Regions from separate parts of the Homo sapiens genome. Here region 2 is linked to region 1. Evidence: fine-mapped expression QTL. Tissue or cell type: cerebral cortex. Region 1 holds a variant in brackets; the other region holds the start of a gene. All regions are shown on one strand. Distances are between the middles of the regions.

What was found. PIP is the estimated chance that this variant, and not a neighbour inherited with it, causes the effect. A credible set is the group of variants that fine-mapping cannot tell apart.
Region 2: it holds the start of ARHGEF39, and the variant in region 1 is the best candidate, but not a certain one, in a credible set for the expression of ARHGEF39 in cerebral cortex (GTEx, PIP 0.57).

What each region holds. Positions count from the first base shown.
Region 1 is chr9:35,636,380-35,643,615 of GRCh38, reverse strand. It overlaps a transcript of CD72 not described here. Among named protein-coding and RNA genes, the nearest start is that of SIT1, 11 kb to the left of the region's middle. The variant A/G (reference allele first, on the strand shown) is at 3,269.
Region 2 is chr9:35,662,573-35,668,960 of GRCh38, reverse strand. It overlaps ARHGEF39 (Rho guanine nucleotide exchange factor 39), which reads left to right and starts at 3,766. Exons shown (of 9, transcript NM_032818.3): 1 at 3,766-3,929; 2 at 4,111-4,205; 3 at 4,469-4,589; 4 at 4,835-4,953; 5 at 5,569-5,639; 6 at 5,887-6,015; 7 at 6,220-6,388. The coding sequence starts at 3,792. RefSeq lists a silencer at 3,598-3,747 and an enhancer at 3,898-3,977.

The sequences.
Region 1 (7,236 bases):
AGAAGTCAATCTAGTACTGGGAACACATAGTTGGGGGCCATCTCTTTGACTCGGCGCGCTTAGTCTACCAGGCCTTTGTTTGTAAGGAATCAAGTCTTTAAGTGAAGCGTTGTTTATTGTAAGGACACATGGGGCAATCAGGAGGCCTAAATGGAATGGGAATCCCAGAGCAGTGGCTATGGTGTGAGTAGACCTCTGCAGACTGTTATTGGATCTCAGATCTCTGCAGTGCTGGGGACTGTCACGCGCGTCTGTGATGGTCCAGGGGGCTTCCAAGGCGATTGGGCAGTGTCGGTCTTCAGCTGCTAAGCCGAGCAGATGTGGGAAGGAGTCAGCCAAGGAACGTTGGGTTTGAGCTCCAGGAGCTTTAGGAATGGTGGCGATGTGAGTCGGACAGTCCAACCTCCAGTGGGGGCCCACACAGACAGGGCACGGCCTAGGAGGAATCCCGAGCTGTGGGCATTCTCAGGCCCAGTGGCCAGGCTTTTGGCATTTGAAGCCAGGTCCACGAGGAGGTTTTGAAGGAGCCCCTGGGAACTGTGGCTTGGATGTTCTGAAGTTTTTGTGTGCTGGAGACGTGGTTGTGGGTTGTCTTACAGCAGAGGCGAGTAGCTGTAACTCAGAGATGCCTTGTCACTTGGCTGCCTCTTCTCTATTATTGTACACCTTGAAGGCAAGGTTAATTAAGTCCTGTTGTGGGGTTTGAGGGCCGGAATCCAATTGTTGGAGTTTTTTCCTAATATCAGGAGCAGATTGGGTGATAAAATGCATATTAAGAATAAGGCGGCAACCCAAAAGCAACTAAGAGGGTTCCTTGGCATAACAGGCTTCTGCCGAATATGGATTCCCAGGTACAGCGAAATAGCCAGGCCATTATATACACTAATTAAGGAAACTCAGAAAGCCAATACCCATTTAGTAAGATGGACACCTGAAGCAGAAGCGGCTTTCCAGGCCCTAAAGAAGGCCCTAACCCAAGCCCCAGTGTTAAGCTTGCCAATGGGGCAAGACTTTTCTTTATATGTCACAGAAGAAACAGGAATAGCTCTAGGAGTCCTTACACAGGTCCGAGGGATGAGCTTGCAACACGTGGCATACCTGAGTAAGGAAATTGATGGAGTGGTAAAGGGTTGGCCCCATTGTTTACGGATAGTGGCAGCAGTAGCAGTCTTAGTATCTGAAGCAGTTAAAATAATACAGGTGATCTTACTGTGTGGCCATCTCATGATGTAAACAGCATACTCACTGCTAAAGGAGACTTGTGGCTGTCAGACAACCATTTACTTAAATATCAAGCTGTATTACTTGAAGGGCCAGTGCTGCGACTGTGCACTTGTGCAACTCTTAACCCAGCCACATTTCTTCCAGACAATGAAGAAAAGATAGAACATAACTGTCAACAAGTAATTGCTCAAACCAGTGCCGCTAGAGGGGACCTTTTAGAGGTTCCCGTGACTGATCCCGACCTCAACTTGTATACTGATGGAAGTTCCTTTGTAGAAAAAGGGCTTTGAAAAGCAGGGTATGCAGTGGTTAGTGATAATGGAATACTTGAAAGTAATCCCCTCACTCCAGGAACTAGTGCTCAGCTGGCAGAACTAATAGCCCTCACTCGGGAACTAGAATTAGGAGAAGGGAAAAGGGTAAATATATATACAGACTCTAAGTATGCTCACCTAGTCCTCCATGCCCATGCAGCAGTATGGAGAGAAAGGGAATTCCTAACTTCCAAGGAAACACCTATCAAACATCTGGAAGCCATTAGGAGATTACTATTGGCTGTACAGAAACCTAAAGAGGTGACAGTCTTACACTGCCGGGGTCACCACAAAGGAAAGGAAAGGGAAATAGAAGGGAACCGCCAAGCAGATATTGAAGCCAAAAGAGCCACAAGGCAGGACCCTCCATTAGAAATGCTTATAGAAGGACCCCTAGTATGAGGTAATCCCCTCCAGGAAACCAAGCCCCAGTACTCAGAAGAAGAAATAGAATGAGGAACCTCAAGAAGACATAGTTTCCTCTCCTCAAGATGGCTAGCCACCGAAGAAGGAAAAATACTTATGCCTGCAGCTAACCAATGGAAATTACTTTAAACCCTTCACCAAATCTTTCACTTAGGCATTGATAGCACCCATCAGATGGCCAAATTATTATTTACTGGACCAGGTCTTTCAAAACTATCAAGCAGATAGTCAGGGCCTGTAAAGTGTGCCAAAGAAGTAATTCCCTGCACTGCAGGCCATACATTTCAATCCCTGTATCTTTAACCTCCTTGTTAAGTTTGTCTCTTCCAGAATTGAAACTGTAAAACTACAAATGGTTCTTCAAATGGAGCCCCAGATGCAGTCCATGACTAAGATCCACCACAGACCCCTGGACCAGCCTGCTAGCCCATGCTCCGATGTTAATGACATCGAAGGCACCCCCCCCGAGGAAATCTCAACTGTGCAACCCCTACTATGCCCCAATTCAGCAGGAAGCAGTTACAGCGGTCATCAGCCAACCTCCCCAACAGCACTTGGGTTTTCCTGTTGAGAGGGGGCACTGAGAGACAAGACTAGCTGGATTTCCTAGGCCGACTAAGAATCCCTAAGCGTAGCTGGGAAGGTGACTGCATCCACCTTTAAACATGGGGCTTGCCACTTAGCTCACACCCAACCAATCAGAGAGCTCACTAAAATGCTAATTAGGCAAAAACAGGAGGTAAAGAAATAGCCAATCACCTTTTGCCTGAGAGCACAGCAGGAGGGACAAGGATCGGGATATAAACCCGGGCATTCAAGCCGGCAATGGCAACCCCCTTTGGGTCCCCTCCCTTTGTATGGGAGCTCTGTTTTCACTCTATTAAATCTTGCAACTGCACTCTTCTGGTCCATGTTTGTTACGGCTCGAGCTGAGCTTTCGCTCCCCGTCCACCACTGCTGTTTGCCACTGTCGCAGACCTGCCGCTGACTCCCATCCTGCTGCTGACTCCCATCCCTCCAGATCCGGCAGGGTGTCTGCTGTGCTCCTGACCCAGTGAGACTCCCATTGCCACTCCCGATCGTGCTAAAGGCTTCCCATTGTTCTTGCACGGCTAAGTGCCTGGGTTCGTCCTAATCGAGCTGAACACTAGTCACTGGGTTCCACAGTTCTCTTCCGTGACCCACGGCTTCTAATAGAGCTATAACACTCATCGCATGGCCCAAGATTCCATTCCTTGGAATCCGTGAGGCCAAGAACCCCAAGTCAGAGAACACAAGGCTTGCCACCATCTTGGAAGCGGCTC[A/G]CCACCATCTTGGGAGCTCTGTGAGCAAAGACCCACGGTAACACTAACAGGGTCATGGGAATCACCAAATTTATAGCTAGTTGTTCAGAAGTGTGGGTGACCTGGGGACCCCCAAAGTACAGCTGGAATCTGAAGAGAAGATTTGTGAAGGATTAAGCCCTTAACTTATGGAGTCTGCACTAACTGTAGATGGTCAGTGCCAGAAATGGCTTTTAGTACACCAATTTTGGTTGAAACAGAAAAATGTCACAGAATGAAAACCATTTTAGTAAATAGCAATAATTCAGTCATTTTTGGTGGAAATTCTTTGATGTGATCTAAACCAAAATGAGATCAGCTTTGCTTCAAAAAGATTTTGCCAAATAAGAGAAACTGCTGAATATTTAACGTTTAAAATATCAATTTCTATGTATTTTTTCCTTTTTCATGGTGTTCAGGAATTAATTTTGTTAGCAGTCAAGATTGCTTAATCCTCAGAGTTACATTTCCATTTTGCAAAGTAACAACTGGTTGGTTTTTACTCTTAGTTTCCCTTTCCCCAGCCAGCATGTAAACAACCTGCCATATTGTTGCAAAAAGGCAAATAGGGTTAAAATTGGAGACAAGACTTCCATCATTTTTGCCAAGCAGAGAGGGAAGAACTCAGTAATCACATAATTCTGCTCAAACTAAGTGTATCTGAGAACTATTCAAATGTTCACAGGAGGACAGATGACCTCTTTTTTCTCCATTTCTCTTTGGATGTTACACTTTGTCATTTGTCATCAAAATTGGCCTTTTCCTTTATCTCTTTGTGGTAAAGCTTGATGGCATCTGAATTTACACTGTCTCCTTGACAGTTGTGCTGCTTCTGCTTCTTTCTGGCAGTTTCTACTTTTCCTTTCATTTTATTATCCTGCTTTTTATTTCAATTTTGTTTTTATAGTCTCTGTGTACTGTCTTGACCTTTAGATGGTCTTACCTTCAACATGGCAAGGATGTCACACTACCACGTACAAATAACAATGTGCTTTCTTAGCTCATTTCCCTAGCATGACTTTTTTTGAGATGTCAAAAGCAAGTTTTTGAGAAACCAATTGCATTTTTATTTTGCCCTAAGGGTGCTTAACCCAATGTCTCTTCTTTTATTATTATTTTATTACCCAAGGGAAAAAAAATTTACTTAGTTTATTTTTTTAAAGCCAGTACTTTGCTCATCAATTAATGTTTGTTGAATTTATTCCTACTGGATGAGTAGTTGTATTCTTTTGAAATAATGTGTCAAATCTTTGTGCCCAAAGATTAAAAAAATAAAAGTAAAATACATCTAAAAAAAAAAAAAAAGAATAAGGCGGCCTTCCGGCCCCTCTGGGTCTAGGGCGGTAAAGCGTCTAAGGGTTGCTGCCAAGCGGGCCAGGAACTGGGCTGGGTTTTCGCCTTTACCTTGGGTAGTTTCCTTTAGCTTGTCAGAATTAACAGCTTTGTGTGCTGCCTTTTTAAGCCCTTCAACTAGGCAGGAAATCATGTAATCTCGCCTAGCTATACCTGGGGAATCTGCCTGATAGTTCCTTTGGGGGTCCTCTCGGGGAACTGCTCTGATGCCTTCCTGGAGGCCTGGCTCATGAAGCCAGCGGTTGTCAGCGTGAGACTGGGCTAGAGAAAAAACTCTTTCCTGTTCATCTGGGGAGAGGGTGGAAGTCAGGATGACATTTAAGTCACTGCAGGTTAACTTGCAGGACAGAGTTAGATATCGGAATTCCTGTATATATTTAGCGGGGTCTGATGAGAAAGAGCCCAAACACTGGCTGATTTGGGAAAAGTCTGATACAGAAAAAGGCGCATGTACCCAGACTATGCCTTCAGCTCCAGCCACTTCTCTAAGAGGAAATTGTTGGGCAGGTGGGGGAGAGCTAGTCGCAGAACAAAACTGTAAGCCAGACTGGGTGTGAGGAGGGGAGGTGATAGAAGGGTTATAGGGTGGGGGAGCGGAGGCTGAAGAGGAGCTGGAGCCTGATTCAGCCTGGTGGGGAGCGACCTGAGGAGGAGCAGTCTGGGGAGGAGGGGAGAGGTCAGATGGGTCGGTAGAAAAGGAAGATTCAAAAGACCCAGCAACACTTGGGGTTGGGACTGAAGGGACAGGTGGGAGGGAAAGAAGGAGGATTTGGGACAAGTCGCATTGGGAACAGAGACTAGGGAGAGAATGAAGTGTGAAAGACGCCCGGATGTACGGCACCTCCGACCATTTGCCCATTTTTCGACAAAAATTATCTAGGTCTTGTAGGATAGACAAATTGACAGTGCCGTTCTCTGGCCACTTGGAACTATTTTCGAGTTTGTATTGGGGCCAAGTGGTATTGCAGAAGAAAATAAGGCATTTAGGTTTTAGGTCAGGTGTGAGTTGAAGGGGTTTTCAAGAACACAGGCTAAGGGAAAAGATGGGGGAATCGAGGGTGGAAGGTTGCCCATAGTGAAGGAGGTAAGTTTAAAGAGAAAGGTAGAGACACGGAGCAGGGGGTGATGAGCAGCCCTGGGCTGCAATGTGGGTGAGCAGCCAAAGCAGGCGTCCCCACAATTGACTTGCCACCAAGGGAATGTGGGTGAATGACCAAGGCAGGCATCCCCGTGGTGATCAGACACCAATGAAATGTGGGTGAATAATCAGGCAGGCATCCCCGCAGTGATTAGACACCAAGGGAAGGCTGTCTTCCTGAGTCCATGACCAGCGCCGGAGTTTTGGGTCCACAGATAAAATGTGTCTCCTTTGTCTCTACTAGAGAGGAAAAAGAACTGGAATTGGAAGGACAGGGAGATTGAAGGGTAGCAAGAGAGGGAGATTGAAGGGTAGCAAGAGAGGCTGGAGAAGAGAGTGAAAAGACCGCTTACCCAATTTGAAATTGGTGAGATGTTCCTTGGGCTGGTTGGTCTGAGGACCCGAGGTTGTAGGTGGATCTCCTCACAGAGTTAGGGCGAGGACAGGGGACCCGCCTCCCGAAGGAGTCCTCCTGTCCCGGGTCTTCAGCACCAAATGCCATGCACGTCTGTGTGAAGAGACCACCAAACAGGCTTTGTGTGAGCAATAAGGCTGTTTATTTCACCTGGGTGCAGGCGGGCTGAGTCCGAATAGAGAGTCAGCAAAGGGTGATGGGATTATCATTAGTTTTTATAGTTTTGGGATAGGCGATAGAGTTAGGAGCAATTTTTTGCGGGCAGGGGGTAGATCTTCTTACAAAGTACGTTCTCAAGCGTGGGGAGAATATTACAAAGTACCTTCTTAAGGGTGGGGAGGGTGTATCGTACAAAGTACATTCACAAGGGTGGGGGAATATCACAAAGTACTTATCGCAAGGGTGGGGAGGGTGTATTGTCACAAAGTCAATTGATCAGTTAGGGTGGGGCAGAAACAAATCACAATGGTGGAATGTTATCAGTTAAGGCAGGAACTGGCTATTTTAACTTCTTTTGTGGATCTTCAGTTGCTTCAGGCCATCTGGATGTATCCGTGCAGGTCACAGGGGATATAATGGCTTTTCTTGGGCTCAGAGGCCTGACAGGGACCTCAGTGACAGGACTATGTGGGACTTCAGGATCCTGCTCCTCTAGTTCCAAGACTCAGATACTCTCTTCATTTCTGACCTCGTGATCCACCCGCCTAGGCCTCCCAAAGTACTGGGATTACAGGCGTGAGGCACTGCGCCCGGCCAGAAAGTTCTTAAGAAATTACTTATAGGTGAAGAGGGTCTTTGGAAGCGATGTGGCCAGGGTCTCTCCATCTTTGGCCCTGCTCTGCAGTCTCTCAAAGATGGGTTTAAACTTCCAGCTTGGTTTTGTTACAAGGAGGGAACAGATTTAAGTGATTCTCATTTCTTCATTTCTACTTCTTTTATTTATATTCCATTTCTTCCCACTTTGCTAACTTGCTTCCCTATCCTTTACTGTATATTCTCTACTTAGTTGTTCTGGTTCCTTATAACAGCTTCATATTTCCTCTT
Region 2 (6,388 bases), 26 kb before region 1:
CTACCAACATAATCCAGAATGATCTCATCTCAAGATCCTTAACTAATTATGTCTGCAAAGACCCTTTTTCCCAACAAGGTCACATATACAGGTCTTGGGGATTAGGACATGGACATGTCTTTATATGGGGCCACCATTTAGTCCACCATCAGTGCAGGGGAACTGACGTGGACGCACAGGATGAGAAGGGATGAGTTCGTATTGAAGACTCTCATGCTTTTGCCCTTATCCTGCTACTTATCTTTGCAAGGCCGTGTCATCCACTCCCATGGCTCCTATAAATTGATGACACCCAAGTATTCCCAGGCTGGACTCTCTCCCCATGCCAGACCCATAACCATCTGCCTAATAGACAAGACCCAAGACATCTCCACTTGGATGTCCCACAAGTATTTCAAGTTTAACAGGCCCCAGGTTGAATTTGTCTTCCCCGCAAATCTCCTTTTCATCCTCCTTCAGTGAATAGCACCACCCTCCACCTAGAAGCCAGAAACCTGGTACCATCTCTACTTTCATCTTTTCCTTCACCCTAGCATTCAATAACCATGCCCTATGGATTCTACCTTCTAAATTTTTCATCTACATTTTTCATCTTGGCTCATACTTTCGTCACCTCTTACCTGGATGACTGCAACTGCCTCCTGATGGGTCTTGCTGAGTCCAGCCAACCAGAGTGATGTTTCTAAAATGGCACATCTGATGATCTCACTCCCTGTTTAAGGCCTTTCAATGGTTTCCCATTGCCCTTAGGATAAGGTTCACAGTACCTGACGTGGCCTTCAGAGGGCCGCCATTGCCCTGGTTTCCATGGTGGGCTTGTGACCTAGGGAGGTCCAATCAGTGAAGCTCTCTGTCTGAAGTATTTGATGGCTAAGGGAACCAACTCTGCGGACAACACATAAAGAAGCACACAGCCATTGTAACTGTGGGCAGCCATCTTGTACCCACAATGGAAGCCAGCCTTAAGATGAAGGTAAAACCATGGAAGGCACAGTGGAGTGGTGGAAAGAGGTCCTTGGTAACATGATTGAGCTGCTGGATTAGGCCAACACTAGGGCCCACCTGCTTCTGGACTTTTCAGTTGCATGAGCCAATAAATTATCTTAATGTTTAGCCACTTTGAATTTATTATTACTTATATCACAATTTTACTGATATAAATTCCTTCTAAGTTTGGCCTCTGTCTACCTCTCCAGTCTCCTTTGTCATCACTCTCTCCCTTGCAGTCTATGCTCTCATCTTACAGAACTTCTAGCAGTTCCTTAAATTCATCGTATGCTTGCATATGTGTGTGTCCAAGCCTTTGTCCATGCTGTTTGACTCTTTTTTCCACTTCCCTTGCTGCCAGCGCCCAGCTCTGCCTAGCCAGGTTTTATTCATCCTTCAGGTCATCAGTTCACATATCACTTCTTTGAGAAGAAGCCTTCCCTGACTCCTACACTAGGATCAGTCCCTTCACTGCATGCTTGTGTAGAAGACTACATGTCTCTTGTAATGTTTCCTCATTTTATGGTGACTCCTTACTGTATCTGCCATGCTGGAGTGTAAGCTCCCTGTGGGCAGGGGTCATATGTCTCTTGCCCACCATTTCATCTTCATGCCTAGCACAGGACCTGGCACATGATTGGCATTTAATTTTTTTTTTTTTTTGAGACAGAGTTCCGCTCTTATTGCCCAGGCTGGAGTGCGATGGCATGATCTCGGCTCACTGCAACCTCTGCCTCCTGGGTTCAAGCGATTCTCCTGCCTCAGCCTCCCAAGTAGCTGGGATTACAGGCACGTGCCACCATGCCCGGCTAATTTTGTATTTTTAGTAGAGACGGGGTTTCACCACATTGGTCAGGCTGGTCTCTGACAACACATAAAGAAGCACACAGCCATTGTAACTGTAACTCCCGACCTCAGGTGATCCGCCTGCCTCAGCCTCCCAAAGTGCTGGGATTACAGGCGTGAGCCACCATGCCCAGCCTAATTTTGTTGAATGACTGATGATTGTTGTTCAAAGCATCCCTAGTGCTTCTCCAGCATCCATCGGATTGAAAGCAAAATTTGAGGATAATTAAAGAATAAAGGGGTTATTGACTATCCTCTGAACCTCCTCCTGTTGGCCCCTCCTATCTTTGGCTGTGGGAGCGGAGTTTAGCAGCTGTTCCAGGTAGAGTATGGTGTGCCTGACTTGCTCTGTGGGAGACTCGGTCCCCAGGGAATTAGTTGTCACCAACTGTTTTCAGTGTGTCTTCTCGGCTTTGCCCTCTTCCTCTTCTAGAGTTGAATGATTCCCCAACCGATGCTCACAGGAGGCTCTATTCCCCACCCCTCTTCCACCCACCCAAAGCACTAACACACACTGGCAGCATTCACAAACACACCCATCACCAACTGCACCCCAGGTGTTGTGGTCTACTCTCATCACCTGGGCTCACAGTGACACCAATTACCATGGGATTATCTGTCCTCTTCCATGTTTGAGCTCTTAGTGTGTGGACTGTCCCACATTCACTTGAGACAGTGTAACCAGTCCTTTACCTATCTGGTATCACCACCAGTTTCCTTGGGACATAAGCCCAAGGTACAGTCTGATCCAAACTCTCCCCTTCCTTCATCCAAGCCCTTCAAGTTATTCCTCCCTGGTCTAAGCCCAGCATTATTCCTTTCTTAGAATTCTTAGAATGTCAGAGCTGGTGGGGAGGTGGTAGAGACCTCAGAACCCTGACAATCCTCTGGTTCTTGGCTTGCGGCCCAGATTCCTAGGAGTCCAAAACAGTAGGGAGGGAGCCTAAAGTTTCTGACATTTTGTTTTTTTTAATAACTTTTTTTTTCTAACTACAAAGTAATGCATGCTTAATGTAGAAAACTTGGGAAAGGCAGAAGTATAAGAGAATTTTTAAAATCACCCTGTTTGTCCCATTCATCCCTTTAGCTTCAGTGATCCAGTGCCTGGCACAGATACAGATTAGGTACTTAATACACATTTGTTAAACACATTATCTTCAATTCCATTACCCGGAGATAAAAACCACAGTTAACTTTTTATTTTTATTTTTTATTTATTTATTTTTTTTTTGGAGAGATGGAGTCTCGAACTCCTGGGCTCAGGTGATCCTCCTGCCTCTGCCTCCCAAAGTGCTGGAATTACAGGTGTGAGCTCCCGTGCCTGGCAACAGAGTTAACTTTTGATTGTTTTGCCTTCCAACATTTTATATATGTTTTATACAAAGGGGATTATATTATACACCTTTGTAGCCTGCTTTTTTTCCTCTCAGCAATATACTTACTATGTGCGTTTTCCCATATCGATAGCTTCTTTACAACACCATTTTTAATACTTTCATATCATTCCTTCAAATGGCTATACCTTTTCCTAGCCAATTCTGGGAACAACTGACCCCCTGGCATTTGGCATGGGCCCAGGACAGAATGTGTACTGTAATGACCGCCCCCCGTCCCAATTCTCCAGATAGGACATTAAGTTCCTGCCAGCATCTGCAGCCCGTCTCCTGACTCAAAGTTCAGGCTGCTGCTCCAACATAGTGCCACTCAGAGGAGGGCTCCACACCTGCCCCCAACCTTGCCCTGCCCTGCCCTGCCTTGGCCGGCGCCGCGCACCTAAAGCGCCGCTCTGGCGGTGGGGCTGGACAGAAGAGACCCTGCGCGGTCCGGCCGCTCGCCGCGCATGCTCCTTCCTGCGCGCTGCCCTCCCCGGCCCCGCCTCCGCGGCTCCCGCCCGCGAGCGGTTGGGATTTGAATCTGCCGCGGACTGCAGCCGGAAGTGTCGATCCCTCAGCCAGGGCATGGAGCTCTCCTGCCCCGGTTCGCGGTGCCCGGTGCAAGAGCAGCGTGCCCGCTGGGAGCGGAAACGCGCCTGCACCGCCCGGGAGCTGCTAGAGACCGAGCGGCGCTACCAAGAACAGCTGGGGCTGGTGGCCACGGTGGGGGACCTGGCACACGCTCCCATTATAGGACAGGGACCCCAGGGTGTGGGAGGGTCTCTGCGAGGTCGGTAACCCGGAGCATGTAGGGAGCCTGGGCAGACTTCTGCGGTTTCTGGGGGCGCTTGGCGTTAGCCTTCTCTTCCTCTAGGCTAAGAACCAATGTTCTCTCCTTCCGCAGTACTTTTTGGGGATCCTGAAAGCCAAGGGGACCCTGCGACCACCTGAGCGCCAGGCCCTGTTTGGCTCCTGGGAGCTCATCTACGGCGCCAGCCAGTGAGTGGAAGGGGCACAGGGAGAGGAAAGGAGGGAGAGTCCTGGCCTGTGGCCGTGCACAGAGCTTGGAGTCAGACTTAGGTTCTATTTGGAGTCCGCCAGTTAGCTCACCTGTGGCCTTGGCCCAGGGCCTTAGCATGCCCTTGTTCTCCATCTGTACAATGGGGTAATAGCACTACTATTAGTGCTATTCTCATGAAAACTAAATGAGGTGGTGCTTGAGTGGTTCTAGAGCTGCCCTTTTGCTGTCCTTGCCCACACAGGGAGCTGCTTCCCTACCTGGAAGGAGGATGCTGGGGCCAAGGGCTGGAGGGCTTCTGCCGCCACTTGGAGCTCTATAACCAATTTGCTGCCAACTCAGAGAGGTCCCAGACCACCCTGCAGGTAACCTGGAGATGACCTCAAATCTTGCCCCTTACCTTTCCCCTTCATCTGGAGACCCAAACTTCATACATTTCCTGCATTTATAGAGCCCTCTGGGTGCTCAGCTCTGTGGTAAGTTCCTTGTAGAGAAACGAGAGTTTCTCTCAGGAGCACAGCTTACTGAAGGCTGGGAATGTGGATACAGATGAATGCAATATAAGGAGTGGCTTCTCTCCCTGCTTCCAATCCTTTCTCCCTCACTCCAGGAGCAGCTAAAGAAAAATAAAGGTTTCCGGAGGTTTGTACGGCTTCAGGAAGGCCGCCCTGAGTTTGGGGGCCTTCAGCTCCAGGACCTGCTCCCTCTGCCTCTGCAACGGCTCCAGCAGTGAGTGAACTCTTGATTCCAGCCGCCTCTCTCTTTTAGTTTGTATGACTGCTGCCCTCAGCTTTGTGGGATGCCTTGGGGTCGATCCCAAACTCTTGCCTCGACCCTGAGCCAAATTGCTTCTAAAAACCTTTTGCAAGAGTAAATGTGAACCCATTGGAGTACCCAGGGTCTGCAGCCTGAGGCCCTCAGCTGGAACTGTGGAACTTTAAATTGAAGTGAGGGGGCCTGTACTAGGGCCTGAGGCACGGTTTCTGGAAAAGTTTCAGATGCGGGGCTGGCCTGGGTTAGAATTTCTGTCTCTGGGTTAAGCCTGAGTTAAGGGCTATAGTCAGGCTGTCTGTAGCATCCTCCTTGGGTTGATAAACTTTCATCTTCCAATCTGGCCTCCTGAAGTATGGCTAGTCTGCCAGTGACTCTTCAGTGTGGGATGGAAGAGGGCTGTGTGGTGTGAGCCTGGTTCTGAGTCCTACATGAAAGAAGGGGATACAGTAGCCAGAAGCAGATCTTTCCTGGCCTTCAATTGAAGTATGGGTAGAGGGTGATCTGCACATCAGGCAGGGGGAATTCTGCCTGGCTCTGCTTCCCCTCAGACTTCCCACTGTTGAATTCCAGGTATGAGAATCTCGTCGTAGCTTTGGCTGAAAACACAGGTCCCAACAGCCCTGACCATCAACAGCTCACACGTAGGTTCTTGCTCCTCGGCAACGCAGGCTGGAGGCTTCCTCTCCTGTATTCCTTTCTGATTCTGACCTCCAACAATGTCTGGTATGACCCTATCTTCCACTGACATGTATACAGTGTCCCTACTGCTCTGCCTTTTCTTCAAGAAGTCAGACCCTGACCCTGGTCCCTTCCAGAATAACCTCTTTCACAACCATGGCACCCAAAGTCAAAGTTGTATGGGGAGTAAGGTGGGAGATGTTATTCCAGGGGCTGCCCGACTGATAAGTGAGACTGCCCAGAGAGTCCATACTATTGGTCAGAAACAGAAGAATGACCAGCACCTTCGGCGTGTCCAGGCTCTGCTCAGTGGACGCCAGGCAAAGGGGCTGACCTCAGGTAGCTTGCCTACTTCCCCTTCAATCCTCAACTGCCCCATCTTTTATTTTTATCTAACTCCAAATGCCGACCAGCTGCTCTTTTCTTACTCACCCTTCTTCCTGTACTGACCCAGCACATAACCCCTATTTTCTCAGCCTCCCTTTCCTCTTATTCCCATGTATCTTGAAGCTGCACCAGAATAACAGCGCTCCCATCCCCCAGGGCGCTGGTTCCTACGCCAGGGCTGGCTGTTAGTGGTGCCTCCCCATGGGGAGCCTCGGCCCCGCATGTTCTTCCTCTTCACTGATGTGCTCCTCATGGCCAAGCCTCGGCCTCCACTGCACCTGCTGCGGAGTGGCACCTTTGCCTGCAAGGCCCTCTACCCCATGGC